4 separate regions of the Homo sapiens genome follow, and regions 1, 2 and 4 are each linked to region 3. The links come from fine-mapping of genetic effects on plasma protein levels. A gene starts in region 3. Each other region holds a variant in brackets. All regions are shown on one strand. Distances are between the middles of the regions.

Region 1 (8,101 bases), 39 kb before region 3:
AACATTAAGGGGCACACTGGTGCATGCTGGGCATGGTGGTGCATGCCTACAGTCCCAGCTGTTTGAGAGGCTGAAGCAGGAGGGATTGCTTGAGTCCTGGAGCTGGAGGCTGAAGTGTCACAGCCTGGGTGACAGAACAAGGCCCCATCTCTTAAAAACAAACAAACAAACAAACAAACAAACAAACAAAAACCACAAAGATCCCCACCCTACACTTGCTCACCCACATGCCTAGACTTCATCTCAGGTCAATGTGGGGAAGTAAGGCCTATTACATGACAGTCAGATATGTCCATATGTCCTGTCCCCTCAATTAGAACAAAGATTTGGACAAGAAAGGAAAACTTTCCTCAAGGTAAGAAAACAGTGCTAATTTAAAATGAAGATACTTTAAGGTTAGTAGCCATTCCATCGGGGAGATTTAGAGGATACGAACTGGTGAGTGAGGTGAAGAAATAGGTTTGTTTTTTGGCTTTCTTTTTTAACGTTTTTTTTTTTGAGAAGGAGTCTTGCTCTGTTTCCCAGGCTGGAGTTCAGTGGCGCCATCTCGGCTCACAGCAACCTCCGCCTCCCAGGATCAAGCGATTCTCCTGCCTCAGCCTCCCGAGAGGCTGGGACTACAGGCTTGTGCCGCCACACCTGGCTAATTTTTGTATTTTTAGTAAAGACGGAATTTCATCATGTTGGCCAGGGTGGTCTCAATCTCCTGACCTCAGGTGATCTACTGGCCTCAGCCTCCCAAAGTGCTGGGATTACAGGCGTGAGTCTCTGTGCCTGGCAAGGTTTGCTTTTTAAATCTCTGGTCATACACAGTTCTAGTACCAGTGTTTCAACAGTGCCACAATTGATCTGATTTACTCTTTGTTGGATAAAATTACATTTACAGCAGTGATAAAGTAGAAATAATTTTTTGGAGATTTTGGCAGAACCGTAGAGCCATTTGTATACTACAGATACATTCCATTACAGTGTCTATCTTTATGAAGTCCACCTCAGATCTTTTAATTGTATTTGTTTGTTTACATGTAACTATTTCTTTGCTACTTGGAAAAGCTACCAAAGTAGATTGCAGTAAAAACACACATACTCATGCATATAGATTAATAAAGATTAATAAAAGTTACAAAGAGCACAGAAACATACAGAAAAAGGAAGACATGATTGTTTCAGATTTGAAAATGGCAAATGCCTGTGGTAGAGTGGGTTTGCTTATGGCAGAGCTGTGACTGCCTGGAATGACCACTTTTTGGTTTCTACCAAAAGAGTTTATTTTTATTTATTTTGGGAATTCCAGCTCTATTTGTTGAAAAGTTTGCCTATTGCAAAATCAGGACCGGGTGGAAATTTCTCATAGGATGTGGACTGGATTTCCTAGGATTGATTTGAATTCAAATTCAACATACCCACTAAACCCAAAACTTTGTAGGAGAAGGATGACATAAAAATCTTCAGGATGAATGCTCTAACAGAAAGGTGGGCACGTGCCTAAATGACTCACACAAAGAAGGCTATGAGGTACAAATGAGAGGTATGGAGGGTGGATTCTCACTAAGGGAGGGATGCTGAAAAAATGTCTGGGTTTCTTTCGTCTTTTACTAATTTACTCGGCTAGTTATTGCCTTTGAAATGTTTTGGTTATTTTTGTCTCCACTGGGACATGTTAAGACCAAAAACAACCCAAGCAGACCATTATTCCTTCTGACCTTTCAATTTCTAGATATCCTTCAACTGTAATCTGTGCTACTCAGGTCAAATTTTCTGCCCACAGGGTACCTGGAATTACTTGAGTTCTGGGATGCCACCTCCTTAGCTAAACTGAAGTCTGAATTCACACAAAGAGGAAGTAATAATGCCAGTGTTTTTCAGTTGCACAGCACAGGATTTCCCCAAATGCAGTCTTCAGACTTGCTTCAGAATCACCTGGAGGTGTTGGTTTAAAATGTGGTTTCCGGAGTCCCACCCTGAGCTTTCCTGGAAGAGATTCATATATGGAGCAGAACTACAGTGCGGCTTATAGTGGGTCTGCTGAAGACATCTGTAAACATTGTCTCCATTGAGCCTAACAATAACCTTTTTCAAGGCTGGTAAAGCTGACGGGCTGTGTATTCCTTACCAGTAAAAGATTGTTCTCTGACTGGTCCAAGGTGACACACCTCATAAATAGGGGAATCAGGACCCAAATTTGGCTTTTGGTGACTCCCAGTCCAGTGCTCTTTCCTCAATCCCTCTTTGAACCCCGTGCCAACCCCCTTCAAGCCTCTTCTTTTCTCTGCCAGCGCGCCTGGACACTCAACAGTGGTTCTGCTTAGACCCGCCCCTTGAGGTCTGGCAGCAAAGGCAGGGTCCCTATGTCTTGGAGATTTCTCTTGCCTAAGAGAGAGGGAGAAGAACTTGGCTGTCAGAGAGGGAGGTCTTCCCAGTCTTATCTCGTCAACATCAGATTAGTTCCTTGGTTATTACCATGGAAGGCACAGATAATTGTATAACAATACTCGATAACATCTATTAAGTTCTTTGTGTTCTGTGCTAAGCATTTTACAAAGCTTCCCTCATTTAAACCGCACAACAGCGTGGTGAGATAGGTATTATGACAATCCCCATTTTATAGATGAAGAAATTGAGGTTCAGGTAAACGAATAAACTTGAGGACCTTTGCCTCCAGGAGGCAAATTCGGGCAGGATTAAAGCTCAGTTGGCTTGAATCTAGAGCCTGAACATTGAACCATTTTGTTCCAGGAGCCTTGAGCATTTGAGATGGAGTGAGGCCATGTGGAAGGGGCTGTGGAAGGTTCCATCTAACAACTTGCTAGGCAGGTTGGGGCAGGAGGAAGTGCTCTGTGAGAGGGGCCTGGGAGAGAATCAGGAGAACAGGGTACAACAGCTGGTGAGAGTTTTGCTTCTGGTAAGTTAAAATGCTGAAAATAAGTTTGTACAGGACATTTTTTATCAATTTCCTTTTATATTTGACATGGCAACTAATAAAGGGGCCAGAATATTGAGGGAGGAGATGTGTGGATGGCTGGTGAGAAGGGAGCACTCCCAGGTTTGGCCCTCTTCAAAATTTTGCTGAGAGAGAGGCTTGGG[G/C]CAAACTATTCCCACAGGATACTGGGGAGTACATTTGTGGGAAGCCACCATTGAGCTATTTTGTAAATATTTTGAATTTCATAAAGCTTAATATTTTTCCAACCACCGATCTGCCTACTTTTTACACCCAAGTGTCCTGTAGAGGAAATTTGATCTACATATTTTGCAGTTCTTTATACCCCAGCCATTTAAAATGATATTTAGCAATAGTTTGTTTTAAGAAAAAAAAAACAAAACACAAAAAACTCCAAGACCTCTCTCCAGTCTTTTGTCAATAATCTCTTTCCCCAATTTGGGAATCCGCTTCTCGTGAGTTAAATCCACTTGACAAAATTTAAAATTCAACTTAGTGATATTATTTAATTTCCTATAACACTTTATGGCTAGTGAAGCACTTTTTCATACACCATGTTTCAGGCCTAGCCAAAGAAAGAAAGAAAGAAAGAAAGATCTTTCAGTGTATTTCTTTCTTTCCATCCAAAGTTTGTTGAACATTTAGAAGTCAAGCTCTGTGTCTGGGGAGGTTATAGACCATTTGAATGTGTATTATGAGCATATTTGAAGATGTGCATATTTTGCATCAAATGAACATTCGCTGACAGTTCCCCACTCTGTCTCTCTGATCTCGAGGGGGCAAATGCCCTGGAGAAGAGAGAAGTGATGGGGATGAGAGTGTGATTTCTATGAGGGCAAGAACCCTGTGTAAATGAAGTAACCATATTAAATTGGAAATCAGTGGCTTGCTATTTAGAGATAGCAGAAGATCTCCCAGTTTGCAGGCTTCAAAACTTCCAATTTGTGATCAAACAGTTCCATTTAAATGGGGTAATCAGACAAAACCCCCAAAGCATAGAAAAGCAAATCAATTCAATTGTTCTGTTTAGATATAGACAATGCCTGGAGAGCAAACCATTACAGCTAAGAGAGATCTTTAAGTGAAAGAAAAGGAGAAGGCTCCATTTCAGCTTATTAGGTAAGAAACATAAGGAAACATATATACAAACAAAAAACAAAACCAAAAACCCAAGCAAACAAACAAAACAACAAATACCAAATTAGTTTTCTACTGGCATTTCCTTTTGTGATGGTTGCAGCATCCCAAGAGGGGTTTTGTGCTTTATTAGCTGAAGTAAGAGAATCCTAGGCTGAAATGGACTTTGGAAGGTTTTACTCTGTCTTCAGAAAAGCTTTCATTCTAAGTATCCTAGAAAATAACTCTCTCATTATCTTTCTCTTTCTAGAAGTCATCAATAACTTGTTTTTTTCCACCTAGGAAAGTTGTAAGTGGTGAGTAGCTACTGTTAGGTAGCTACTGTTAGGAGTGGCAAAGTAGGCTTCTCATGCGTATAATACTAATGATAATAGCTGCAATTTTTTTGTGCTTACTAAATGTGCCAAGCATGCTAAAATACTTAAACAGATACTATTTAATTCTCAAAACCCACAAAGCAGGTATGATATGATTATTACCCCTTTGTAAAATGGGGAAGCTCAGAGCACAGAGCAAGCTCAGGTTGTCTGATTTCCTTTTGAGCAGTGTGATCTAACAAGGTCAAGAGTACTGCTGCTTCAAGTATTACTGTTGCTGTGTTCCCTGCATTATACAGAGGACTTGAATTTGTCTAATGTCTTGCCTGGGAAAAGCAGCTCAGTTCTCTCTGAAAAGGAAAACCCAAGACAGAAAGCGTGGATGTGGAAGAAGGTAAATAAACGCCACCAGTTGGTCAGTAACCACAGAAGCTAACAGTAGATCAAATTCTCATTCAGGAGAGGTAAGCTTCTCTTGTACCTATAATAACTTTCAGAAAAAACACATGTCTGGAAAAGTGTGGAGGACTCACCGATATTGGCAGTGGGCTGCTGTCAGCACCCACTGTGGATCAATCAGAACACCTCCACAAACGTGATGTCCGCCATACTGGATGGAGGCCATAAATGGCCTGGAATGAGGTGACACTTCTTTCCCTCCAATAATTTCCATATTGAAACCTACAAAAGTAGACCAAAAGGTTTCACACAAAAGATCTAAACTACTGTTTCATGTAATTCTTCCAATGACAGTCACTATATTATTTTCAAAGCTTAAAAAACAACAATAACCCTACCTAAAAGCTACAATAATTTTACTGATGAAAAATTTGTATAATACATTACAGTTCAGAAAGATAGGAATGATTGTGAAAATAATTTTCATCTATAATATAACAATATAGTCAGTAGAAATTCATTTAATGTTTACATGTAGATATAGGAGATACTTACACACATGAGTCATATAAGCCCCAACTATTAGGAAAAACAGAGAAAAGGAAGAAAACTTAGTCATTTTAAAGATTTAGATTTAAGAAGCCCAGATGAAATGTGTTGATCCTGTGATGAAGGAAGAAGATTCTGAAGACTGAGTTTTGTTCTTGTAAGTTTTGACTTTCTCACCACAGGTGCTCTAGGGGTAAGATTTTTTTTCACACCTAGGTGTAAACGTTATGTATCAGTTTGGGGACTTTCAGGTCTGTGCTTTTAGCACTTTTTTGTTTTGTTTTGTTTTGAGACGGAGTCTCTCTCTGTCGCCCAGGCTGGAGTGCAGTGGCGCGATCTCGGCTCACTGCAAGCTCTGCCTCCTGGGTTCACGCCATTCTCCTGCCTCAGCCTCCCGAGTAGCTGGGACTACAGGCGCCCACCACCACATCCGGCTAATTGCTTTTAGCACTTTTTTGGGAGAGGTATGTATGCCATAAAGAACTCATATCTGGAGATACCATCTCTAATACCTGTATCAGAGTACTTATGCTATAAAGAAAATTTATACTATATGTGTATATAATATTTATAAATGAAAAATATCCATGCCATAAGAATGTAATGAAGTTGCAGACAGAGTTCAAAGATGTCCATTGCTCTCAAGCAATACTTACTATTTTTCCTGGCACAAAATGGTGCCTATCATATTTCATTCTTCTCTCTTTTTCATTTGGACATAGATTTATGATGAAGAGAGACATGGACCTTGCACAGATTATGGTTACTTCACAATGTGGCTTAGCTAAAGCCTGAGCACCAACCAGAGAAAACCATATGTTTTGCAGCAAACATCCCTACTCATGTCGTTTCTCTAAGTTTGCCCAAATTTGGTTAAATTTTAGTTACATTTTTGTGAGATTTCATAATGTTGTTAAAGGTGAACATTGGCAACTATTTTTGATTCAGAGTCTCTCTTTTACTCATTTTTAATTGAAAATGGCCATGTGTTTTTCCAGGGACTTAATAATAATGTCTTTTAAAAATAAAGGACTGCATTTTGTAATTCTTCCCAGGAACAGATGACAATGCATTGCCAGGCCTTCAATACAAAAGGTATTAGACTCAAGATTCTACAAGATTCTGTTTGTGCCAGACACTGATCAGCAGTGCAAATATAAAATGAATACAAACAGATCACGCATCAGAATGCCAATCACTTCCTAGTAACACTGATCAAAATTTGCATTAAATCAACAGATCTTTCTTTTAAGAGGTATGCATTTTATCTTCCATTCATTTTAGAAAGGAGAATTAAAATCCAGAGCTATTATGCTCGGCAGATTGCAAGAGACTCCTTTCAAATTGTTTTCTAGCACAAAGAGTAGGAATAATAAAAAATAATACTATAATTATGTATTATTCATTATAACTTAATAATATATAAGTAAAATACCTTATTTCCAAAATTCTTTTTATATGATCATTTATGGTTTCATGTCTATGTCTTTGAGGAAAGCAGGACAACTTATGTTACAATGGAAGAAATAAGTTCCAAGAGGCTAAGTAATTTGCCCAAGGCAACACAGCTTATGACCTAGACCAAATCACCTGCCTGACCTCCCTGTATGTTAAGTTGTATGTGAATGAGTACCCTCCCAGAACACAGAATTTTATAAAAAACCTGCTTTCCTTGTACAGGTGTGTGGCAACAGTAAAGCTTTCTACATGTTAAACAGAATGAACAAAACCAACGCAGAGCAGTGACTTCCTGTCAGAGCAGAAGGTGAGATAAGGAGGAGCCAGATTAAGAAAAGCCACAAGCTTAATAAACCAAACTTATTACTCCCACTCAAATGTCCCTGTGAATTTTCAAGTCATCTTTGTCACTGTTGATGTACCTTGGATGCTCTACTGTGTGCCATTGTTCCACATTGGAAGGCAGACAGGATGGCGTCAGTTCCCTGCTACATCCCAGTGATGCTGGGATCGTAAGGAAGATGGTGTGTGACAGGTAGAAGTGATCCAAACTCTAAGGAAGAAATAAATTGTAAAGGACGAAGCTTTGTGTGTGTGTGTGTGTGTGTGTGTGGCGGGGGAAATGGGAATGGTTACAAACATCTCTCAGCTGCTTATTTCTGAGTAGTAAGGATTAATGTCCACATAGCGTTGTACAAATTGCTGAACGTTTTTAGCTGTATTTCCAGGGAAGTGGTTGTCATTAGTCTTGTTTTATGGATAAATAAACTGAAATTCAGGGACTTGCTTGAGATTACCGAGCTAGCAGGTGGCCCTTAAGCTCCTATGTGCTGGCTCCCGGCTCTATGTTCCTTTCAACCTGGCTACATGCCTGCCTCCTTTGAGAAGTCCCTGGGGGTTTAGGGGCTCTGAGACACAAGCTAGCTGTGCAGAAGAGAAAAAGGATTTAGCCATACACACTGCGTGTAATTAGACATGGGTGAGATTTAGTTCAGTTGGGAAGAGTCTCATAACTCTTTCTTGTAGCTGACCTAGAAAATTCTGAGAATCATGTTGGTTAATAGTAATGAGTTATTTGGTTTTGGCTTTAGACCGATTTGCCAGTTAATAGTATCATTTGTTATTATATTCACGATTCTGGATTTGAGAACAGTGGGCTGTGTAACATGATGAGCTCGGCGATCTAATTTATTTCTGGGTGTTGGTTTTTGTTCTGTTGAGTCTGCTGCAGGGAGGGCCATGTTTGCTTTGGATGGCTTTACAGCAACTGTACCGGACTGAGCAAGTGCAAGGCTGTGCTCAG
Region 2 (8,107 bases), 84 kb after region 3:
CGAGTTACATATCAGCTTTTCCTTCTCTGGGAGTGTCAAACACCCAAGTAAAGCAGTTTTCCCCATGGAACCCAAACAGCTTAGGTTTCCAGTTTTAAATCAGGAGATTTCTGTTATGCAATTTATTCCCACTATTTTTCTCATTTCACATTGGAATGTTGATCTTAAGCAACTGTCAATCCTACAAAAATACACAGGGCATCTTTTAGCACAGTATCACTTTTTATTTCATTTGGCTGGTAAAGACAGCTTTGTACAAGGGAATTTAGAACTTGTCAACCGAATTTTGGTTAATGTCACTTGAGTTTAAAGAGACTAGATTCCTGTTTCCCTTCATTTTCCTAGAAGTGAGATCTAAATTCAGTTTTATTTCATAGAGCTTGCTGGACACAGGGCTGGCTCCAAAGACAGCACTTAAAGTAGCAGACAGTTATTTTCTCAAAGCCTAATGGCGCCCTCAAGCGGCACATTCCATTGCAAGATTTTCAATCTCATGGCAGTCTTTTCAGAAGTTTTGTTTCTTAGAAGCAGGATAAATTTTTTTTTGAAACATTAAAGCAATCAGTTAGGTTTATTATTTTTAAAGATGACAATGCAAATTCCTCCTTATTAGTCTTCAATCCCTGAAGGTTCAAGATGTTTCTTGCCTCCTGCTGCCATGAGAAGGAAACTTAGAGGCATGCGGTGATGCTACATGGCACGGCCGGTGGATGATTTCTCAGAACGTTCTCATGGGAAGGGTGGGTGCACTCTTAGAATCAGTCATTCCTGCTGAGTTGATGTTTGAACAAGGGAGGGGGCTTGAGAAACTAGGTAAAAAAATGCTTTGAAACTAAGCATGTTCTGGCCTTCGTTTTCCTACACATACAGTTTTAAGAAGGCGCAGTGATTTATACTTCACAAGGTAGTAAATAGTGCTGAATTCTTTGGTTTCCTCTGAAGCATCAGTGATCAAGTTACTGGTGGGATGAATGAACCACTTTGGTGATTGTTTTTCCAGGGTGACTTTGAACACAAAATCTTTGAAGTGTTCTAGTGGATGGATTCAGAGCTTCCCACAGGCTGGCAAACCATTCATGAGACCTCCTCACATTCCCCAGTTCAGTAGGAGTGAGGTGGCCTATGTGAGAGGTAGGAGAGCCACAGGCTGTGGGTAGTCCAACATCTGTTGCATGGGTGTTTTATTAGTCACTTGGTCAAAGAATCCTCCCTGAGAGGCTGGGAGGATCTGCATCTCCCTCAGTCAACTAGGCTGAGTGGCCTGATTAAAAGTCAGCACACACCTGGCTTGGTACATGCAGACACCATCTGAAGTCTGGGAGGGCAAATTGCTTCTGACAATGTCAGTCACGGGAGGGACCTGGAGTGACTCTCACGCTTACACCTTCTCACTAACTTTGGCATTTTATACAGATCCCACAGAAGAGTCAAAGCAATTATCTAAGAGCTTAAAAACTACAGAAATGAGAAAGAAACCTTTCAAATTATCATTGCTTTGATAATGGAGCATCAATTTCAATGCAATGTCATGGAGGTTTATGCACAAGTCAGGAGGTGCACTGGTTTAGTAAATCAGAAGGATTTTGTTGTTGCTAAGCTCATTAACATTCCCGGGAGAGCAATGAAGATACCACTTTGCTGGCTATGGCCTTACAGGTGACCACATTGAATGCAGATGAAAAGAAGCCAAAAGAGTCAACAAAGAGAAAACACAAATTCAGGTGTGTTTAGTCGGTGTGAAAGATAAAGAGTTCCCTGATTCTCATGTTCCCTCTTCAGGGAAGGGAACTGTGTACCTTCTCCTTTTTTTTTATTTTTTATTTTTTGTTCACATAAGATTAATTGCATAAAGTGAAAATCCACTGGAAGATTGGAGGAGTTTCATCATGAAGGGTGAAGGCTCGTGCGCCATACTTTCATAAATGTGTGTGCCTGGGAGGAGGGGACAGAAAGGACAGGACATCCCTGCTAGCTCTTCCATGGAAGGCTGAGCAAATAACCAGGGAAAGGATAGAGAACTGGAGTCACTCTTTGGGATTTAGGCTCATGATTCATACTGGCCACTGGAGGGTGCCCCTCTGCAGTCATCACTGCTCAGAAGCCCAGACTCAAATTCCAATGGTACAGATGCACCTTTTTAATGTGTTGCAGAGTTTCTCAACTTCAGTACTATTGATATTTTGGCCCAGATAATCTTCATGATAAGGGGGCTGTCCTGTGCACTGTAGGATGTTTAGCAGCCTATCTGACCCCTAACCACTAGATGCCAGTAACACCTGACCACCCAGTGATGACTATGAAAAATATCTCCAGATAGTGCCAAATGTCCCTGGAAGGCAAAACTGACCTTGATTGACATCAGTCAGTCCATTGTTCTATGGCTCAAACGCCCTTTCCCAAAAGATTCTTGTTTGGCCTGGAGTCAATGGACACAGCATTAGAAAGAAACAAAAATTGCTTTGGCCAAGTCTCTATTCATTTTCCAGTTAAACCCCAGCTACAGGATTCCCAGCCTAGGTGGCTTTGATCAAGTCTATCCAATATGATATAGGTGTCCATCCCACCTTCTCTCTCTGCAGCCATTCCATCCCCTCTTTTCAGAGCTCCTCCTCCAAATCCTCCAAGAGTGCAGATTACCAGGAAGTGAGGCATTTTGTAAACTGCTTTACACTAAGGCGTGTTTGTCACCTGGACTACTGCAGGGGATCATCATGCTGAGGGATGTGCACATTTAAAAGGAGGGAATGGCCTGACAGAGGGTATTGTCTAAACTTGCTAAATACTAATCTCTAGCAGCAGGATGCCAGGCACCATGTTATCTGTAAAATGGAGGACATTAATAGTGTTTCCCTCATAAAGCAACTGTGTGGAGCGAGTAAAGCACTTACAGCAGTGCCTGAAAAAAGTAAACACTCCTGAAATGCTAATCGTCCTGTTTTTGTTGCTGTCATTACCATTAGTATTTTTCTTATCTATCCAAGAGACATGTTTGGAAAGAGGTATGATAGCTTTGAGCTTGACCAACTTCCCATAAAGTTATCCTTGTCTTTAGTCTCTAACCTCTAATGCTGCATCTGGATACTTGAAACAAAACCACCATTAAGCAGAACTTAATGCTAAAAAATGAATCCACCTTGAAATCCTCCCCCCTTGAATATACCTTTGAATATTCTACCCTGAGTCCAAAAATCATTGAATAAATGAATGAATGAATGAGCTATAGGTAAAATGGAAACAAATATTTGTGAAGAACCTAAACTATGCAAGGTGCCATGGGGCCATCTAGAATATTAGACATAATTTTATGACTAATAAAGATACAGGCACTCAAATCACCAGGTCACCCCGCAGGGTGTAATGAAAGTTGAGAAGAGTATAAGGTGTACGGGAGTGACAAGGCTGGAGAGGTGACTTTCCCACACAGCAGTTTGGTGGAAAGGCACTTGGGAGTTGAGGGCAGGGGAGAGGAGTATTCTAAGCCTTTCTTTTGGGCCCTTGGGTTTTATTGCATTACCAGGAAGCAGCTGCCCCTCAATTACAGAGCCAGAGATGCAGTGCAGTGAAGTGTCAGTTTCACATGTGCCATCTGTAGAATCTGAAACCTCAAACTCATACAGAGACCACAGAGCACTTTCTGAGCCTTCCAGTCATGCC[A/G]CCTGCATTCATGTTCTTTGTGGTTTCTGAGAAATGCTGCACAGTGAGCAAATGAACTAAATCACAAGTTGTGCTGAGCCAGAGAAATAGGAGACTTCTTGGAAGTACACAGCTGTTGTCTAATTTTCCCAGTCTCTTCCAATTCAAGCAGAGAAGTGTGTTGAAAATCTGTGTGTGTGCATGTGTACGCGTGCCAGAGAGAGGGGGAGAGAAAGAGAGAATGCCAATTGCTTTATTTTGGAAGGAAGATGAGGGCTACCCAGAAGTGAGAAACATTAGTGTTTATTCCTATTTTAACAGCAGACATTCAATGTTCTACGGCCTGTAGGTTAATTTACTTTAAAATAATGTGTTTAAGATAGATAGCAGATTTTAGGTACTTATCACAAACAAAAAAGAAAAAGAAAGGTAACAAAGATGATGGGCATGTTACCTCATTTGATTGTAGGAATCACTTCACTATGCATACGTGTATCAAGATAAGTATATCAAAACACCATGTTATACACTTTAATATATATAATAAAGCAACAATAACAAATAACGTAATTTGTATAAACTATATAATTTTTGTGTACAAGTTAAATCCATCATTTTAGAGGTGATTAATAGTCTTTGAAATCATGAGGTTATTAATTAGCTATGCAGAATCCTAAACAGAAACTTAAACCTCAAAAGCGAATTTCTTGGCACTTACTGAAATAAAGCCTGAGAGCATTAGTAAGTTAGCAGAAGGGATGTCAGAAATAATTTTAAGTGCTGAAATTCATGGAAGCTTAGTACAGGACTCACTGTCCTTTCACGAACATTCAGTGGCATATGTGAATGAAGGTTAAGAATCTGGTCAGCCCAGGACTTTAACGACTGCTTTCCAGGTTGAAAATTCCTTGGCTTCTTCTTTCACGGGCTTCATGGAGGATTTTTGTCACCAATTTGACTACAAAGATGAGCATTCACTCACCCTGGAATGTGCCTTTCATGTAAGGGGTGATTGTGCAGCTAAGGCAGAGAGTGGGACCTCTTCTGCTACATGCAGGCTGTGGGACTGAATTGTGACTTTAGGTGGAATTTGCCCCTTTTGTTGTTCTGCACCTGATGGTGAGAGTGTGGTGAAGGGAACGTCTAACTCCACCCACTTAGAACCTCCAGAGGATCATCAGCTTTTGATATTTACCAGAAAAATAGCCTGATGTTTGCTGAATGGCCAAATGGACTTAGGCTAGTTTGCAGCAGTGCAAGCAGCAGCTGCTCGATGGTAACGCAGGACGGGGAGCTGGTGAAGACGTTTTGTTCAAAAGCCTCATTTTGCAATACAGGCTTTCTGAGGAGGAGGGAGGCTGGACTGTGTTCTGTGAAGCAACTGTCTGATACAGTGAGTCACAGTCAGGAGGGTCTCTTGGCTTCTGAGAAAGGTTTAATGATGAGCCATGAGCTGCAACCTCCCTGGACAGAGGATGTGGACACGCCACAGCTGTTTCTGGGCTACTGCTGCATCAGACGCCGTTTACCCAGCAGCTGAGCATGACAGATGCCTTGTAGGTACCGGGCACAGTGCAGGTACCTACAGTACCTTGTATTTACCTTGACTCAGGGTATGGGAGGTAGCATAATGTGGTGGCTAAGGGCTTTGGTTTCAGAGACTTGGCTTTTCGTCCTGACTCACTGATAGGAAAGGAAGAGAAGCAGGAAGGAAATTCACTCCTTATTCCATGGGTTCTTGAGTCAGAACTTATTCTTTCTATTTTGTAAAAATAGAAGCTGTCACCCCATTACTAAATAGGAAGGAGGGATGATGGGGTTACAGGGCTAGAAGAATGAGAGAAACCCTGTGTCATTCAGAATGTCAGCTCCCGCAGTTTTCGCAACTGCTCCTGTTACTGTGTGGCCTACGATGAACATCTGTATGGATTGGACTAATGGACTAATCCTGCATCTAACCTTGGCTGAAGGAAGTACCTCGTATGGCCTTGAGTCTCCAGAGCTGCCTGTCAGAAGAAACAGAAGAAATCCCCACTGGCTGCTGTCAATCCACTGACTTGCTTTAACTTTCTTCCTTCATTGTAAAGTCTTGCTCCCAAATGCTCTGTGAGGACACTCGTTGAAGTGGCTATCATTGATTTATATTTCTGTGTGAGGAATTCCAGCCCCTTTCTTCAGGGTAGGTTTTTACTCTGAGAAATTATGAAGATGGCAGAGGAATAGAAGGGTCCCCATGGGAACAAAAGCAGGACTGGCATTTGGGGGTATTAAGATACACACTTTACTGACTTCTAAATTTTCCTTGAGGTCTCTGAGTTCTGCTGTAAAATAGTTTGGCTGGCTTTCCATTACTCTCCTATGAAAATGGTAAACTGACAACTTCAAATAGAAAAAAATTTCATATTAATTTCTTCATTTCTTCATCAACTACTTATTGAGTACATGCTGTGTCAGCTGCTGGTCCAGACCCTGGGGAGATAACACAGCATCGATGGTCACTTGGATTAGAGCAGCAACAGAGATGGAGAGAAGCAGATTGATTTGAGTCATGTTTAGATGTAGGGCTAACAGGACTTTGGGTATAAGGAAAAGAGATGAATGAGTGTTGATTCGTAAGGTTTGGACTTGAACCATGAGATAGATGGTGGTGCTATTACAGAGATGAAGGGGATGAGAGGAGGACCAGGCTTGCAGAGCAGAAGTCAAGGCTTCCATTTTTGTCACATTAATTTTGAGATGACTATTTGACAACTGGGGGAAAATGGCAAGCAGGCCTATCTTATTCAGTTCAGGCTGTCATAACATAAGGCCCCATGGACTGGGTGGCTTAAATAACAAACATTTTATTTCTCATAGTTCTAGAAGCTGGGAAGTCCAAGATCAAGGTGCCTGCACATCCAGTGTCTGGTGAGGGCATTCTCCTTGGTTTGTAGACAGCTGTCTTCTCATCGTATCCTCACATGGTAGAGAACAGAGAGAGGAAGCTAGCTCTCTGGTCTCTCCCAATAAGGAAACTAATCCCATTAATGTGGGCTCCATTTTCAAGATCGAATTACCTCTCAAGGCCCCCACTCCTAATACCATCACATTGAGGGTTAGGATTTCAGCATTTGAATTTGGGCAGGGAGGTGGGGGAGAAGGCCAGACATTTGGTCCATAACAAGGGCTTTGGATACACAAGTAAGGCTGAAACCCAGGGGGCCCCTCAGAACCAGAAGTATGAATTTGGGAGTCCTTTCCATGTAGTACTTCAAACCATGGGGCGGGAAAAAATTTGTAGATGGAGAAGAAGAGAGCAGGTAGGGCTGAGCTCTGAGTGCAGAGATGGCTTAGAGGACATGGAGCTAGCAGAGGAGACTAAGCAGGTGCAGTCACTGAAGTGGGAGGTTAACACAGAGCCTGTTGCTTTATGGAAGCCAAGAAAGGAAAGGATTTCAAGGAAAGAGCAGTCAGTTTGAATGCTACTGAATGTAGGGCGAGATGAGAACAGAGAGTACCATCAGGTGTGGTGATTGGCGCTTTCTGCTCTCATCTCATCCTACCTTCAGTAGCTCAGCAGGAAACAGAAATTATACTGCCCTGATTGAATGGGTGCAAAGAGAAGGGGACATCATGTGCTTCAAAGAGTTGGATCAGAAGAGTTGGGGGGAAGTTAGGTATGGTGAAGGGACTATAATATCAGGAAAGGGATTTTTAGGATTAGAATATCCTTTTTAGCTGGAAAAATAGAGAGGGGGATATTGAAGATTGCAGGAGAGAAAGAAAAAGAGAGAGAGAGACGCCTTGAAGAAGCAGAAGGGAATGGGATCTAGAGGCAAGTGGAGGTTTGCCCTGAATAAGTAACTCTAGTGCCTGTAACAAGATGCCGGGTGCAGGGATGACGAGGCTGGGTTGAGGTTGGTCAAAAAGAGACTAAACTCCAAAAGAGGTGAGAAAGCGGAGACAGTGAAAGGAAATGACGCTTTCCAAAAGAAGACTTCTTTCTCTGTGCTAAAGGAAAGGATACATGTTGGGCTACGGAAATGGGATGGAATTTGGAGTTAAAACACTTGAGTCCCAGGATTGAGACTCATCTTAAGCTACTGAGTGTAGCTTACCTGCCCAACAGATTTTTCTGAGGGGAAAAAAGGGGCAATTCACCTACTCAAAAGAATCAAGATGTAATTATTTTCTTAGAATATCTCCACAATTTGATCATGAGGGCTTATCAAAATTTCATGAAAACAGACATTGCATGAATACTCTTAGTATCCACTTATTCATTCATTCATTCATTCCACAGATAGTCATTGAAAACCCATTATGGCCCAAGCACTGCTGCAGGCATTGGGGTTGCTCAGTGACCATACCAAGTCTCTGCCACATAGAGTTTACATTAGAGTGGGAAGGAAAACTATAAATAAGGATCTATGTATACCAGATGGTTATCAATGTTGTGGAGAAAAAGCAGCTTATGCAGAATGGAGGAGCTGTT
Region 3 (8,106 bases):
TGGTTGGTGCCTTACCCATAGCTGATTATGAAACTGGGATGCCAACCTACGTCTTCTGGTCCTGAGTTCAGAGCTACTTTTGCTACTCACATTGCTTCTCATGTCAGGGTGGCACATGGTGCTTCTGGATGTGGGTTCATATTTGCAGCTAGAGGGATGCTGTGTGAAACAGGAATCTCTTGCTGATGGAGTCCGAGATTCAGAACCTGATTTGAGAAGGAGCTAGCTGTTAGAAAGAAAAGCTTGCCTTGATGCCCCACATTAGAAACTGCCAGAACTGGGGGCAAAGAGGAGAAGAAGGCACCTCAGTGAGTAAGAGCTCTTCATGTTTCCAAGCCAGACTTCCTGGCTCTAAAAAAGTTCCTAGCAGCGTGAACCCAAAGTTGAAGTTTCTAGATTTGAACAGGGTTAAAAAACAACCTGACTCTGTGGCTGCTTCCTCAGAGGCTCCATTGGAGTAAAAATCTGGATATAGTGCCAAGTTCTCTGAGAGGTGCCCAGACATTCTGGGTTTGTAGCAGACACTGCGGGTGTCCTGTCCTTATCTTCTTGCAGTCACTCACACACCCTCACACTCAGGGCTCCTGCAGAGCTCTGTGTGATGGCACCCCAGCTGCCTACGAGGTTGACCTGCTCATCAAGACAAATCAGAGAGCCCCCATATGGGCAAGAAGCCTAATTAAAGCAGATGCATTTCACTTTGCTCTTCTAAGCAGGTGTAGTTTTTGAAAATTGCCTGTAAATCATATATTGGTACATTCAATTCCACTTTGCTATTAAAATTGTCTTTATTAAAAATAGAAACTTAAAGAATTAGAGAGATTTCTTTTGGGAAAATATTTGCTCCAAGACATAAGATCACATTTAAAGAATGAAGCCAATCTTCAGAAATCAGACGCTTGATAATAATAGTCACGATGGTTTCATATCTGTTGCCCTGTTTGGCCCTCTTATTATTGAGGTACTGAGGAGAAAGGAGAGGTCTAAGGTATGTGGCATGTGACTTGCCTAAGATCACATATCTTGGCAGTGGTAAAGCTGTTTCTAGGCAAACTGTACTCAGGGCAGGAGGCTCTGGGAAGATTCCTCAGGCCCTGGGCTTTGACAGCTGACCTGTGACTGCCGTGAATCCCAGCCAGTTTGGCAGAAGTATTTCACCAAGTTCTATTGGCTATGAGGGGCTCCCATGAACTTTCCAGGGTGGATGTGATATTGCCAAGCCCAAGGTCAACAGGACAAATTTGGTTAGCTGTGAAGGAACTGCCGCAATGGGACTACAGTCTTTGCTCAGGCTCCATCCAATCCTCGATGTCTCTTGGATTGGATGTGCTGTTTCTTGACACCTCTACCTCATTCCCACAAGTAAACACATTCTGCAGCTTAACCTAGCCTGCCCTAGAATCTGGGCCTCACTTTGCTTCTCCTGGTGGAAAGAGAAAGAAAGGGAACACATTGATGCCCGTTTAACTTACTATCATCTGAAGATGATTCTGGGAAACAGTTGGTTCCTTTTATGTGTTTATTAAGTATTAAGCTCCTGCTGTGGGCTAGACCTTGCAGTAGGCACATGCAAAATTGCTATCAGCTAGTGTCAAAGCAGGAAGACTTTCAGATGGTATCAAAAACCACAACCAAAACTAACCTAAAAACCAAATCACCTAAAATCTGCATGTAAATGTCTCCACTTGCTCCTCCAAACTTTATGCCCTCAAGTCTGCCTTTGTAATTCAATTTAAACCAGACTTCTCTGGTAGAGCTGGTTTGTTAGGAAGGCACAGTAAGTACGGTATAATTCGCTTTACCATAAACCACCTTCTGAGAGTCTGGGATCTGCCCAGAGCCTTTCCACTGGACTACTTTTACCTATCCAGAAAAAAATCCTTGTTATTTGGTTAGAAGCAATCATAATGTACAAAATAAACACAAAATATTAATGCACATTACCAAAGCTTATTTTCCTAACACAATACCAGCTTTAAGAAAAAAATCAAAGTGGCATTTTAAGTATACAGGGTATACTGGGTTAAATAGATATTTGGTTTTATCATTTCTCTGCCCCCATTGCAAAACACCATATGCTGCAACATTTGGATCCACAGATGGTATGGTTTGACCCACCTTAGTTTGAACTTACATTTTAGGAGTTGTGAAAATCTTGTGCAATTCCTCTTGCCCTTTCTCACTCTGACTTGACAACTGATATACAGGCAGAGCAAGATGAGAGATGTTCCAGTCCCCAGCACAAAGCAAGTGAAATGGGTGGACCTCATGCACTCACTATCAACAGCTCTGCCATCATCTTATTGCTTTTTAATGCAGCTTAGAGTTGGCTCCTTGGTTGCTCGTGCTCCCATTTCCTAACCCTTTGTGGTCATTGCTAACTTTCCTAATGGAATTCATTGATCTGGGCTCAAGGCTCTGGGGAAGACAGAAATCACTAGATAAAAATCTTACAGGGATTGTGTTGGGACAAATGGTTTTTGTTGGGTCTTGGAGGGATTGAAGGTTCCCCTAAAATGAGTTGTTAGGCACTGTGTATTGAGATAGTTCCACCACTGGTGAACTCTATTGGGCATATTTTCTGCACTTACCTGTGCATTGTAGTTTGGTTTACTATTTGGATTTGGTACTCTCAACTTACATTTGTTTAGTTGTCATTTACTGAAGGTATTATCAATTTGGTTTCCCTTTATCTTCCATAGTGGAAGAGTTTCATGTCTTTATGTGCTATTCAGGAGGACGAAATCCACTCCATTCCTTCTGTATTACATCTAGTATAGCTTACCATGTCACCCACCTTGGGCACCTGTTTGGCACCTGTATGTATTTGATTTTACAATCCTTAATCCAGTCTCCAGAGCTTGTTGGTCTCAGGGCTGGAGTCCTGGCTTCACCATTTGCTAACTGTGTGATGATGGACAAGTTACTTACCCTCTCTAGGCCTCAGTTTTCTCATATCTAAGATGGGGATAAGAATAGCACCTAGCTCTTGAGGTTGTTTTGAAAGTTAAATGTGGTAATCTACATAAACTGCTTAGCATGGCATCTGGCACACAGTCAGATCTCTGTAAAGGTTAGATATTATTATTAACCACTATTCCAGTTAACTACTCCTCAGAAAGTGGTGTTCAGTAACAAGGGACATTTTCTAGGGTCAGCCTAAATTGCGACCTAGGCCATTGGAACTATTGGCCATGAAAGCACAATTATGTATTGTAATAGGCAATAGAATATGTGGCTCTGACATTAGACTAACATCCATCCCTTCAATATAGGGACCTTAGGCAAATTAACCTCTTTCTTACTCAGTTTCTTCTTTTAAAAAATAAGCATGATAATAGCAGCCACTTCATAATATTGTGATGAGGTGCAAATGAGTTAATGCATGTAAAGTGTTTAAGCTATTAACTCAACAAATATTACCCATTACTGAAAACATCAGAGTGTGCCACCTGCTAAGTAAGTGCTTCTGGGGAGATAGAGTATTTCAAATTGGATTGTCATGAAAAATTTGGAAAATTTGAAAGCTAAAACTCTTGCTTTCATTTCCTACTGCCTCAATTCTCTGTATTCTGAATTTACTCCCTGTGTCCCCCTAAAATTGCATTTGCAAAAGCCGATCTTCAAGTTACATCCAATGCCCGCTCTGCCTCATCTTCTATGGGAAACAAGAATTTTAGAGGTCAGGTAGCCTAACACCATCAATTCTCAAAAGAGGAAGCTGAGGCCAAGAGAAGTCCTGTGAATTTCTTACAGCTCATTTGTGACAGACCAAGAATTACCCACTTTACTGGGTTGTTATTTACTAAGTGACAGTGAGTCTATATCTCTTTTGACAAGTGAGGTGGGGGCATGGAATTCGGCATGTGGTTGGTGTAAGAACTCCCCTCTCTCCTCTTTAACCTTACTTAATAAGACCCTGGCACAGTTGATATTTTAAGAGGGCTACTCTGTTTTCCCAGAGGGACCTAGGCACGGTAACCCTCTTAGCATGCAGACCTTGTTTCCTGAGGGGTAATGTTTCCCTTCCCTGTGACTTGTTTCTTGGGGGCTGTGTTCTGATTTTCCTGCTGAGCCACTTGTTGCCTTGGGCTGGCTGCCGCGCTTGGCAGTTTTTAGTGAGGGCTCTGATAGATGCCAGGAGGTGAGGGGAAGGGCTCTGGGTGGACTCCGTCATTGGACAAGCAGACTTAGTGATGGATGAGCCTTCCCCTGAGGAAGTTTTGGATCAGAAGTCCAACTGATAAGTTTTTCCAGAATTGAGTAACCCAGAAGCAGTGCCGAAAGGATCTTACCTCTCTTGTGGCTTTTTGTATTGATTTTAAAAGAAATTCTCAGAGGCAGTTCCACATTGTACTGGAAGCACAGCTATATCCACAATAGGCTTAGATATATGTAACATGAATTGCTTTAGAAATAACATTTGAGGAGAGGGGTGAGAGGAAGGAAGAGAGGGTCTTAAAAAATAGCCCTATCAAAATATTTTCTTTCTTCTAAGTATTGAAAAGACACAATATAACCCTTTCTTCTTTCAAATGATCTCATAGCTATTTGTTGAGGGGAAATACCAAATGTTTATTATTTTTTTTGAAGAAGCTTCTTCGGTCCTGATGATTCATGTTGATATCATTTTCCTCCTGACTACAGAGGCTCTGAGACAAAGCTACACCTCAAGTGATATGCCAGGGTCAGAACAATTCCCGTCCTGAAGGAGGGTGTGCAACCTTCTTTATCCCTCCTTCACAGACGTCCTTGAGCCCTTGAGACGGATGTGAGTGAGTTTTTCAGTCCTCATGCAAAACAACCATCTAAACATAACAGATGACATCAGCTTGGGCTTTTCAATTCCTGGATGGCAGCAGCGTGTTAATCCAGCCTTCATCCTGGATTTCATAAACCAAAACAAGAGAGCCTGGCAGGAGGACAGCGCTGCTGCTGGGTTGAGGAAATTGATGACGGGAAAGCATGCGGGCAACCCAGTGTATAAAACTCATAAACGTGTAGGCAGAGGCTCAGCTACCAGTTTGGACGGCTGCTTCCCACCAGCAAAGACCACGACTGGAGAGCCGAGCCGGAGGCAGCTGGGAAACATGAAGAGCGTCTTGCTGCTGACCACGCTCCTCGTGCCTGCACACCTGGTGGCCGCCTGGAGCAATAATTATGCGGTGGACTGCCCTCAACACTGTGACAGCAGTGAGTGCAAAAGCAGCCCGCGCTGCAAGAGGACAGTGCTCGACGACTGTGGCTGCTGCCGAGTGTGCGCTGCAGGGCGGGGAGAAACTTGCTACCGCACAGTCTCAGGCATGGATGGCATGAAGTGTGGCCCGGGGCTGAGGTGTCAGCCTTCTAATGGGGAGGATCCTTTTGGTGAAGAGTTTGGTATCTGCAAAGGTAAAGAGTGACCCCTTACCTCTCCCCTCCCGGGGCATGCTGAGAGCTTTTAGCCAGCTTGGGAGGTGAGGTGGCTTTGCTCCTCAAGAGTAAGAGGGAAAAGGCAGGTGGATTCTTGACAAGGCACCACACAGGTATTGTCATGGGTAGAGACTGAAGGATAGCTCCAAGTAGCAACTGAAACCAGTGTGCAGGAAGGCACAGAAAGAAGTGTGGCATTTTACTCGTTGCCTTAGGAGATCGCAAAAAGAAAGCTGCAATGGAAGATTGTGTTGGCTCCTTTTCTGGAAAACTTTAGAAACTTGACAGGTAATCTGTTAAGGATGGCTTAGGTGCTCTCTCCTCTGCGAGGCAGCGATTACAAAGGTCTGCACTAGATAACCTCTTGGAATGGTTTCTAGCCCCCAGATTTAGTGATTCTTTGATCTTGAAAGGGTCCACAGGATGGAGGGCCACTCTCAAGATCAAATATTTCTGATAAACACAAATGCACTTTATGGAATAGAGTGAGCTTAAGTCATCTAACAAAATAACTCACTCTTCAAAGAGGGTCCCCTGAAGCATAAAACAAACCTCATCTGACTTTATAAAGGTTTTGGTCATCTGGAAAAATAGCAGATGGTGTTAAGACAAGGAAAAATAACAATAGAGAAAAATAAAAACTGGAAGTCTGTAAAGAATGAGGTTGACCACTTGTACACTTAAAGAAAAACTTCGTCGGTTGAAATTTTAGCTAAATAATGTAGTTAAGCATTTGTAGAATTTATTTTAAACATAGTAACTAGTTTAAAATATTTAACATTTTAAAAATGTTTAGAATAAAAAGAATGATGATTTAAAAATACTCTACGTATAGATATCTCATGATCTTATTATGAAGAGCTATTATTAAGAAGCAACACATGCTATAACCCCATCCATCAGTTGTGTAATACCAGGAAGCTTTCAAAATTATAAAAAGGACTGAGAAATTTCTAAATAATTATTATGTTTTATGTATTTAATACATTTTTTATGAATAATATTTATCCAGTATTGTGCTAATCTCATTAATTCTCCTACTTCTTAGACATATAATGTATAAATTAATCATCTTTTAATTTGCAAGACATACAAAATTAAAAAAACAAATTCTTAAAGTATTAGGAGAGTTTTATTTTTTGCTTAGTTTATTTTTGTTTATATACAATAAGAAATAGAATATTGAGAAAATATTTTGTTTGGTGAACACATATGCATGTTTCTTTCAACTGAATAGGATCTGTATATTTTGTAAATTATGGGGCTTATTGACCAAGAAAACAGTACTTCACATAAGGAAATTAGGGAGGAAGTGGTTAACACAATCATACTTATGATATAGCATGTATATGCAGTGGATTGCTTTTTCTCTTGGCATAATATGCCTTTGTACATGTGATTGTAAATGTACATTACATATGGGCAAAGAAACAAGCTGTGTGGCATCTGGAGTCTTTAGCACTGTAGTATTCTACTGAATGATCAAGATACTAAAAAGATCTTTAAGATTGCTTCTTTTGGCTTTCTTCAGGTTGCTGATGAATCTAGTTTTAAGCATTTTTCTCTCTGCTGGAAATAGGAGACTTTGTGAGCCTTAGCAACTCGAGATAGAGATAATACATTTGGCAATCATCTCCCTTCTTCAGCTTTTTAAAAGAACATCCACGTGAAAACTGTAAACTTCAGCTGCGTATCCAAATGTCTTCTAAATATTCAGATGTCTGTGAACATCTTGCCCAGATTAACAATCAGCAGCCAACACATATTTAATGAACACTTACTATCTGCCCAGCACTGTTCAGTACATCAGGGGATACACTAGAAGTATCTCTGGGAATTTGGCTAAAGTTTTAGTTTTCAATATCGCTGCAGGCACAGTCAAATCCTAATCCTGTGTGCTTTTCTGGAACAGGCCTTTGCAGGATCCCTTTTTAAGATCTCTTCTTCCCAGCAAAGAGAACAGTGTTCAAAACCAGGTTCCTCTGTGATCTGAACCATATTGAAAAGAGCACTCATAGATCTCTTTAAAAAAAGATAGCTCATTGATGATCTACTTGGTCAGTTAGTGGAGTATTAGACTGCTAGAGACTCAGATGGCTCACAATTTGTTCTTTACCCACCTGTGATTGTACATTTACAAGGTATTTTCACAACAAGAGAATATTCTATATCTATTCTGCTGGCTTTTAAAGGTTGGTTAGTCTACTGAGATGCTGTTTATCCTAAAAACAGCATTTTAAATAATTTTATGCATTTTAAATAAACGACTTTGTCCTCTTTATTTCAATGTAGGATGTTTTGGCATAAGTGTAAGCACTGGAGGTCTAAAAGCTTCTAGTTCTTGGTAGGTGTACAAACCCTCAGGGTGTATAAGCCCTGAGCTTTCTTGCTCATTTAGCATCTTGCATGTTAGCCTTGCAGAGGATTTTACTAGGGAGCCCTCTTAACTACTGAGGGAGTCAGGCAAGTTGTATGACATGCCGTTTCGACAAATAAGGAACTTGATAAGGGTTGGAGCAGATGGAAGATTGATTGCTTCATGGTGAGCTAGGATGATAGCTCTCTCCCTGGTTAGTTTGAAGCCCTTTCCTATACACTTAAAATAGTAAATTATCTGTGAATACAGTAGATTCAAAGATAGCATCACATTTTAAAAACTCTTTGAGGAGCTGATGCATATATGTCTGTTCAATT
Region 4 (8,107 bases), 220 kb before region 3:
ATAGTAATTCTATGTTTAACATTTTAAGGAACTGCCAAACTATTTTTTAAAGCAGCTGCACCATTTTACATTCTCACCAGCAGTGTATGAGGGCTTCAATTTCTCCAGATCCTTAACAACACTTGTTATTGTCTGTCTTTTTTATTGCAGCCATGCTAGTGAGTGTGAAGTGGTATCTTATTGTGGTTTTCATTTCCATTTCCCTAATGGCTAATGATTTTGAATATTTTTTCATGTGCTTATTGGTCATTTGTATATCTTACTTGGAGAAATGTCTTTTCAAATCCTTTGCCCATATAGAAATTAGTTTGTCTTTTCATTGTTGAATTTTTTTTGTTCTTTAAAATTTTTTTAAATTTCTTTTATTTCTTTTTTCCTTTTTCTCTTGTTTTTAGTTTTTTTCTTTTTTCTTTTGTCTTTTTTTCATTGTTGAATTAAGTGTTCTTTCTGCCTTTCTGTGGTTTGTTCTTCACTTTCTTGAAGGTATCATTTACAGCAAAATGTTTTCATATTGATGTAGTCCAATTTATTTATTTTGCTAATTGTGCCTTTCATCTCATAACTAAGAAATTATTGCCTCACTCAAAGTCATAAATATTTATTCTTATGCTTTCATTTAAGAATGTTATAGTTTTATTAGTTAATTTAGGTCTATGATACTTTTTTTTTTTTTGAGACAGAGTCTCACTCTGTCGCCCAGGCTGGAGTGCAGTGGCATAATCTCGGCTCACTGCAACCTCTTTCTCCCAGGTTCAAGTGATTCTCCTGCCTCAGCCTCCCAAGTAGCTGGGATTATAGGCGCCTGCCACCATGCCCAGCTAATTTTTGTATTTTTAGTAGAGACGGGGTTTCACCATGTTGGCAAGGCTGGTCTCAAACTCTTGACCTCAAGTGATCCACCCGCCTTGGCCTCCCAAAGTGCTGGGATTACAGGCATGAGCTACTGCACCCGGCCTATGATACACTTTGAATTAATTTTTGTTTATAGTATGGGATGTCTGACTTTATCTTTTTGCATTGGATGGTTTGTTGGAGACTATTCTTTCCGCATATTGTCTTGACACCCATTTTGAAAATCAATTGAACATAAATGTAAGAGTTTATTTTTGAGCTCTCAATTCTACTCAATTGATCTGTGTATCCATCCCTAAAGTAGTACTATGTTGTCTTGATTATTGCAGATTTATAGTAAAATTTGAAATTAGGAAGTGTGAATTCTCCAACTTTGTTCTTTTTTTCAAGATTGATTCAGCAATTTTGGGTCCCTCATAGTGCCACATACATTTTAGGATTAACATATCCTTTTCTGCAAAAAAAAGTCACCTGTGGTTTTGGTAGGAGTTGCATTGACTCTGTAGATCAATGTAGGCAATATTGCCTTCTTAACAATACTAAGTCCTCTAATACATGAATTTGGTATATCTTTCTCTTTATTTAGATTTTCTTTAATTTCTTTCAATAATGTTTTGTAGTTTTCAGTGTAGAAGTCTTACACCTCTTTTGTTAAATTTATATCTAGGCATTTTATTTTTCTTGATGCTATTGTAAGTGGAATGGTTTTCTTAGTTTCATTTTCAGATTGTTCATTGTTAATGCATAGAAATACAACTGATTTTTGTATATTGATTTTGTATCCTTCAACCTTGTTAAATTAGTACATTAATTCTTGTAGTCTTTTAAATGAATTCCTTAGGATTTTTTGTATACAAAATAATTTTACTTCTTCCTTTCCAATCTAAATAGCTGCTGCTGCTCCTTCTTCTCTTTCTCCTTTCTTCTTCTTCTTCCTCTTCCTCCTTCTTCTTTTTCTTTTCCTTGTTTTCCTTCTCCTCCTCTTGCCCACCTCCTCTTCCTTCTTTTTCTTTCTTCTCTTTGCCTTATTGCCCATGTGCATACCTACAGTGCAATGTTGAGTAGCAATGGGGTGAGCAGGCATCCTTGTCTTTTTTCTCATCTTGGGGGGAAACATTCAGCCTTTCACCATCAAGTATGATGTTTGCTCTGGGTTTTTCATGGATACCCTTTATCAGGTTAAGAAAGTTTCCTTTTTTTCCTGGTTTATTAAGTGTTTTTAAACATGAAAGCGTGTTGGATTTTGCCAACTTTTTTGCATCTATTGAGATAATCGTGTTGCTTTTCTCCTTTATGCTATCATTATATTACATTGATTTTTGGATCCAGGAGATTCTTGATGCAAGATAAACCAATTAGTAATTCCCTTTCCTGGGAAAACTCTGACTTGGAACTGAGGTTTAGTGACTTGTAGTCATTTTAATGTCAAAATTCTGGGAGATGATCCAAAACTTGAAAACATGATGAAAACTTTGCAAGTAAGCATCATTCAGGGTGGGGGCTATGGAGGAGCATTCCAGGTGGTGAGTGACCATCAGGGAAGTGAGCCCTGAACCTTGGAAGAGCTGCGTGTGTATAAGAGAAGCAACTAAAACTCTCCATGCAAAGGAACAGTCATTTTGTCAGGTGGGGAAGGGTATAGGGCAAAAGGACTCCAACAACTAAGGAGCATACAGCCCCTCTTCTTTTTCCTAGTAAAAAGAGACGGGAGATCTTTAGAAGAGAAAGAGAAACAGCTCTCTCTGTATAGAGGGGTCTCGCAGCGGAAAGGACCCGGCTGGCAGTGGATGCACTGGATTTTATTCGAAGATCACGGACAGTAAAGGAGGAAATTATACAGAAAAGTTGGAGATCCTGTTGCCGAAACGCCATTGGGCGGTCAGAGGCTGAGGTCAGTCCAGAAGCCTTTGGATAACGCCACGGGGTAGCCCCCGCCAGAAACCCTCAGTTGCCTCAGGACTACTTCCAGACCCACACGAGGGCTAAGTCCTCCGTGAAAGGAAGCTATTTCAAACATGGCCAACATGCCCTGCAAGCCGTGGGTGCTGGGGATTCTGCATGTTCTCCCCAGCAAGCCTGTCCCCCAAGTCTTTCAAGGCTGGCAGCCATGCTAATCGTTTTTAAATGGCTGAAGGGGGCCCAGTATTTGGTTTGATTTGGTTCTGAAATGGAGGCCGAGAACCTTAAAGTGAAATGACAGAGTTGGAGTCCGCTGCTCTACTCACCATTTGGATGAATGTTGTACGTTGGTATCCCGGACAAGGGCCCAAGATGAAGGGGCTACGTTGTCTGGGATGTATACCTTGGGGTTTGTCATCTCGCGCCAGGAAAATTTAGGACACGGACACACACAGGGAGTTTAGGAGTAGAGGTTTCATAGACAGAAGAGAAGAGAATGAGAAACAGCTCTCTCTATAGAGAGAGGGGTCTCTGAGCGGAAAGAACCCCCATATAATGTTATTAACTATATTGTTTCTATAGCTTTTTTCCAAATTCCTTTTTGCTTGGAGATATTTTGTGATTTGAAAAGTAGACTTTACGTTTGAGTCATTTTAGGTTCACAGTAAAATTGAGTGGAAGGTATAAAGTTTTCTCATATATTCCCTGACCCCACACATGTATAGCCTCCCCCATTAACAACATTCCTCACCAGAGTGGTACATTTATTACAGTTGATGAACCTATTGACACATCATTATTACCTGAAGTCCTTAGTTTACATTAGAGTTTACTCTTGGTGGTGAACATTTGATTGGTTTGGACAAACGTATTAGGACATGTACCCACCATTATAGTATCATACAGAATATTTTCACTGTCCCAAAAATCTTCTGTGCTCCACTTATCCAGCCTTCTTTCTCGCCTAACTGCTAGTAATCACTGATCTTTCTACTATCTCCATAATTGTGCCCTTTCCAGAATGTCAGGTAGTTGAAATCATGCAGTGTATATAGCCTTTTCAGACCTTCTTC[T/C]TCTTCTTCTTCCTCTTCCTCTTCCTCTTCCTCTTCCTCTTCTTCTTCTTCTTCTTCTTCTTCTTCTTCTTCTTCTTCTTCTTCTTCTTCTTCTTCTTCTCCTTCTCCTTCTCCTTCTCCTTCTTCTTTCTTCTTTCTTCTTTTCTTCTTTCTTCTTCTTCACTTTTGAGACGAAGTCTTGCTCTTGTTCCCCAGGCTGGAGGGCAATGGCGCGATCTCGACTCACTGGAACCTCCGCCTCCCAGGTTCAAGTGATTCTTCTGTCTCAGCCTCCCAAGTACCTGGGATTACAGGCGCCTGCCACCATCCCCGGCTAATTTGTATTTTTAGGAGAGACGGAGTTTCACCATGTTGGCCAGGATGGTCTCAATCTCTTGACCTCATGATCTGTCTGCCTCGGCCTCCCAAAGTGCTGGGATTATAGGCGTGAGCCACCACAGCTGGCATATTTAGTAATATGCATTTATGTTTCCTCCATGTCTTTTCATGACTTGATAGCTCATTTCCTTAGTGCTGAATAATATCCCATTATCCCATTAAGATATACCACAGTTTATCGATTCACCAAATGAAGGATATCTTGGTTGCTTCCAAGTGTGGCAATTTTGATTTCGAATAAAGCTGATATAAACATCTGTGTGCATGTTTTTGTGTGGACATAAGTGTTCAATTCTTTTGAATAAAACCAAGAAATGTGATTGCTGGATTGTATGATAAGAGTATATTCAGTTTCGTAAGAAAGTGCCAAGCTGTCTTCCACAATGACTCTACAATTTTGCATTCATACGAGCAATGGATGAGTGTTCCTGTTGTTCCTGTTGCTCCACATCCTCTCCAGCATTTGGTATTGTCAGTGTTCTGGATTTTAGCCAATCTACTAGGTGTGTAGTTGTATCACATTATTGTTTCAATTTGTGTTTCCCTGATGACATATGAGGTGGAGCATCTTTTTATATGCATATTTGCCATCTGTGTTTTTTTTTTTGCTGAGATGTCTGTTAAAGTCTTCTGCTAATTTTTAAATTAGGGTTTCTTATTGTTCAGTTTTAAGAGTTCTACCTATATTTTGGATAACAATTCTTTATCCGATATGTCCTTTGTAAACATTTTCTCCAAATCTGTGACTTGTATTTTTATTCTGTAGACAGTGTCTTTAACAGAGCAGAAATTTTAATTTTAATTTTAATTTTAATTTTAATTTTTTTTTTTGAGACAGAGTCTCACTCTGTTGCCCAGGCTGGAATGCAACGGCACGGTCTCGGCTCACTGCAACCTCTGCCTCCCAGGTTCAAGTGATTCTCCTGCCTCAGCCTCCCAAATAGCTGGGATTACAGTTGCTTACCTAATTTTTGTATTTTTAGTAGAGACAGGGCTTCACCATTTTGGCCAGGCTGGTCTCAAACTCCTGACTTCAGTGATCCATCTGCCTCAGCCTCCCAAAATGTTGGGATTACAGGCGTGAGCCACTGCACCTGGCAGAAATTTTAATTTTAATGAAGTTTAACCTACCAATTCTTTCTTTCATGGACCATCCCTTTGGTATTGTATCTAAGACATCATTGCCAAACTCAATATCATTTAGATTTTCTCCCATGCTATCTTCCAGGAGTTTTATAGTTTTGCATTTTACTTTAGAAGTATGATCCATTTTGAATTGATTTTGTAAAGTATGTACAGTTTGTGACTAGATTACTTTTTTTGCATAGATGTCTAGTTGTGCCAGCACCATTGGTTGAAAAGACTGTCTTTTCTCCATTGTGTTGCCTTTGCTCCTTTGTCAAAGATCAGTTGACTATATTTCTGTGGATCTATTTTTAGGTTCTCTATTCTGTTCCATTGATCTATTCATCTATTTTTTTAATCAATACCTCCAATGTCTTTTTTTTTTTTTTTTTTTTTTTTGAGATGAAGCCTCACTCTATCACCCAGGCTGGAGTGCAGGGGCGTGATCTTGGCTCACTGCAACCTCCACCTCCTGGGTTCAAGCAATTCTCCCACCTCAGCCTCTCCAGTAGCTGGGATTACAGGCATGCTTGCCAGCACGCCCGGTTAACTTTTGCATTTTTGGTAGAGATGGGGTTTCACCATGTTGCCCAGGCTGGTCTTGAACTCCTGGGCTCAGGCAATCCTCCAGCCTTGGCCTCCCAGAGTGTTAGGATTACCGGCATGAGCCACTGCACCCAGCCCACGTTGTGTTGATTACTGTAATATTATAGTAAGTCTTGAATATGGGTAGTGTTGGTCCTCCAGCTTTATCTTCTTCAATATTGTGTTGCCTGTTGTGCATCTTTTGTATCCTTATAAACTTTATAATTAGTATGTTGATATCTACAAAATAGCTGTTGACATTTTGATTGAAATTGCATTGAATCTATAGATTAATAGTTGAATCTTCTCAGTACTTGGGAAGAACTGACATCTTGGCAATATTGAGTCTTCCTAACCTTAAACATAGGATATCTCTCTGTTTATTTAGTTCTTTATTGATTTCTTTCATCCAAGTATTGTAGTCTTCCTCTTGAAGATCTTGTATGTATTTTGGGTGCTAAAGTAACGATATTGTGTTATTAATTTCAAATTCCACTTGTTTATTGCATCTTGTTCATTGCTAGTATATTAGAAAGCAATTAACTTTTGAATATTAACCTTGTATCCTGCAGCCTTGCTATAATTGTTTATTGGTTGCAAGAGGGTTTTTTTTGTCAATTCTTTCAGATTTTCTACACAGATAATCTTATCACCTGCAAACAAAGACAATTTTGTTTCCTCTTCCCTAATTTGTTCAACTTTTAAAGATTCCACATATAAGTGAGATCATGCAGTATTTGTCTTTCTGTGTTTGGCTTATTTCTTAGCATAATGTCCTCCAGATTTATCCATGTTGTCACAAATGGCAGGATGTTCTTTTTTACAGCTGAATAATATTCCACTGTATATGTGCACCACAATTTCTTTATCCATTCATCTGTCCATGAACACTTATGTAGTTTCCATGCCTTGGGTATTGTGAATAATATTGCAATGAACATGGGAGTGCCGATATCCTCTCAAGCTACTGATTTCTTCTTTTCTTCTTTCTTTCTTTCCCCCTTCCTTCCTCTTTCTTTCTTTCTTTCTTTCTTTCTTTCTTTCTTTCTTTCTTTCTTTCCTTTCTTTCTTTTCTTTCTTTCTTTCTTTCTTTCTTTCTTTCTTTCCTCTTTCTTTCTTTCTTTCTTTCTTTCCTTCCTTCCTTCCTTCCTTCCTTCCTTCCTTCCTTCCTTCCTTCCTTCCTTCTTTCTTTCTTTCTTTCTTTCTTTCTTTCTTTCTTTCTTTCTTTCTTTCTTTCTTTCTTTCTTTCTTTCTTTCTTTCTTTCTTTCTTTCTTGACAAAGTCTAGCTCTCTCATCCAGGCTGGAGTGCAGTGGCGCAGTCTTGGCTCACTTCAACCTCCGCCTCCCAGGTTCCAGCAATTCTCCGGCCTCAGCTTCCCGAGTAGCTGGGATTACAGGCGCCTGCCACCATGCCCAGCTAATTTTTGTATTTTTAGTATAGTTGGGGTTTCACTGTGTTGGCCAGGCTGGTCTTGAACTCCTGACCTTGTGATCCACCTGCCCCCACCCGCCCTCGGCCTCTCAAAGTGCTGCGATTACAAGTGTGAGCCTCCACACCTGGCCCCAGCTACTGATTTCTTTTCCTTTAGATTATATATCCAGAAAAGGGGTTTCTGAATCACATGTAGTTCTATTTTTAATTTTTTTTTTTTTTTGAGACGGAGTCTCGCTCTGTCACCAGGGCTGGAGCGCAGTGGCGCAATCTCGGCTCACTGCAACCTCCGTCTCCCGGGTTCACGCCATTCTCCTGCCTCAGCCTCCCAAGTAGCTGGGACTACAGGCGCCCACCACCATGCCCGGCTAATTTTTTGTATTTTTAGTAGAGACGGGGTTTCACTGTGTTAGCCAGGATGGTCTCGATCTCCTGACCTCCTGATCCGCCTGCCTCGGCCTCCCAAAGTGCTGGGATTACAGGCGTGAGCTGCCGCACCTGGCCTATTTTTAATTTTTTGAGGACCTCTCCACACTGTTTTCCATAATTCCTGTACCAATTTACATTGCCACCAGCAGTGTACAAGGGTTCCCTTTTCTCCACATCCTCACCAACATTTGTTATCTTTTCTCTTTTTGATAATATCTCACTGTGGTTTTGATTTGCATTTCCCTGGTGATTAGTGATGTTGAACATCTTTTCCTGTGCTTGTTGGACAGGAAAAGGAGAAATGTCCTTTTAGATCCCTGGCCCACTTTAAAA

Direction of the effects. Alleles are on the strand shown, and positions count from the first base shown. The strength of an association depends on the size of the effect and on how common the allele is.
In carriers of allele C in region 1, the plasma level of the protein whose gene starts at base 5,015 in region 3 tends to be lower than with G alone (moderate association).
For the plasma level of the protein whose gene starts at base 5,015 in region 3, allele G in region 2 goes with a higher level than allele A (moderate association).
In carriers of allele C in region 4, the plasma level of the protein whose gene starts at base 5,015 in region 3 tends to be lower than with T alone (weak association).

What was found. PIP is the chance, under the fine-mapping model, that this variant and not a neighbour inherited with it causes the effect. Protein levels are from antibody-based Olink assays in UK Biobank. Linkage for the fine-mapping came from a reference panel and not from the study's own genotypes, which makes the PIPs less certain.
Region 1: its variant is fine-mapped to the plasma level of the ESM1 protein (UK Biobank, PIP above 0.99).
Region 2: its variant is fine-mapped to the plasma level of the ESM1 protein (UK Biobank, PIP above 0.99).
Region 4: its variant is fine-mapped to the plasma level of the ESM1 protein (UK Biobank, PIP above 0.99).

The regions. Positions count from the first base shown.
Region 1 is chr5:55,021,632-55,029,732 of GRCh38, reverse strand. GZMK (granzyme K) reads right to left here and starts at 5,477. Exons shown (of 5, transcript NM_002104.3): 1 at 5,347-5,477; 2 at 4,926-5,073. The coding sequence starts at 5,410. LOC102467081 (a long non-coding RNA gene) reads left to right here and starts at 5,564. Exons shown (of 3, transcript NR_104662.1): 1 at 5,564-5,804; 2 at 7,021-7,105. The variant G/C (reference allele first, on the strand shown) is at 3,085.
Region 2 is chr5:54,898,495-54,906,601 of GRCh38, reverse strand. No RefSeq gene overlaps it. Among named protein-coding and RNA genes, the nearest start is that of ESM1, 83 kb to the left of the region's middle. RefSeq lists a silencer at 6,773-6,930. The variant A/G (reference allele first, on the strand shown) is at 3,655.
Region 3 is chr5:54,982,502-54,990,607 of GRCh38, reverse strand. ESM1 (endothelial cell specific molecule 1) reads left to right here and starts at 5,015. Exons shown (of 3, transcript NM_007036.5): 1 at 5,015-5,391. The coding sequence starts at 5,091.
Region 4 is chr5:55,201,747-55,209,853 of GRCh38, reverse strand. No RefSeq gene overlaps it. Among named protein-coding and RNA genes, the nearest start is that of MCIDAS, 22 kb to the left of the region's middle. The variant T/C (reference allele first, on the strand shown) is at 3,825.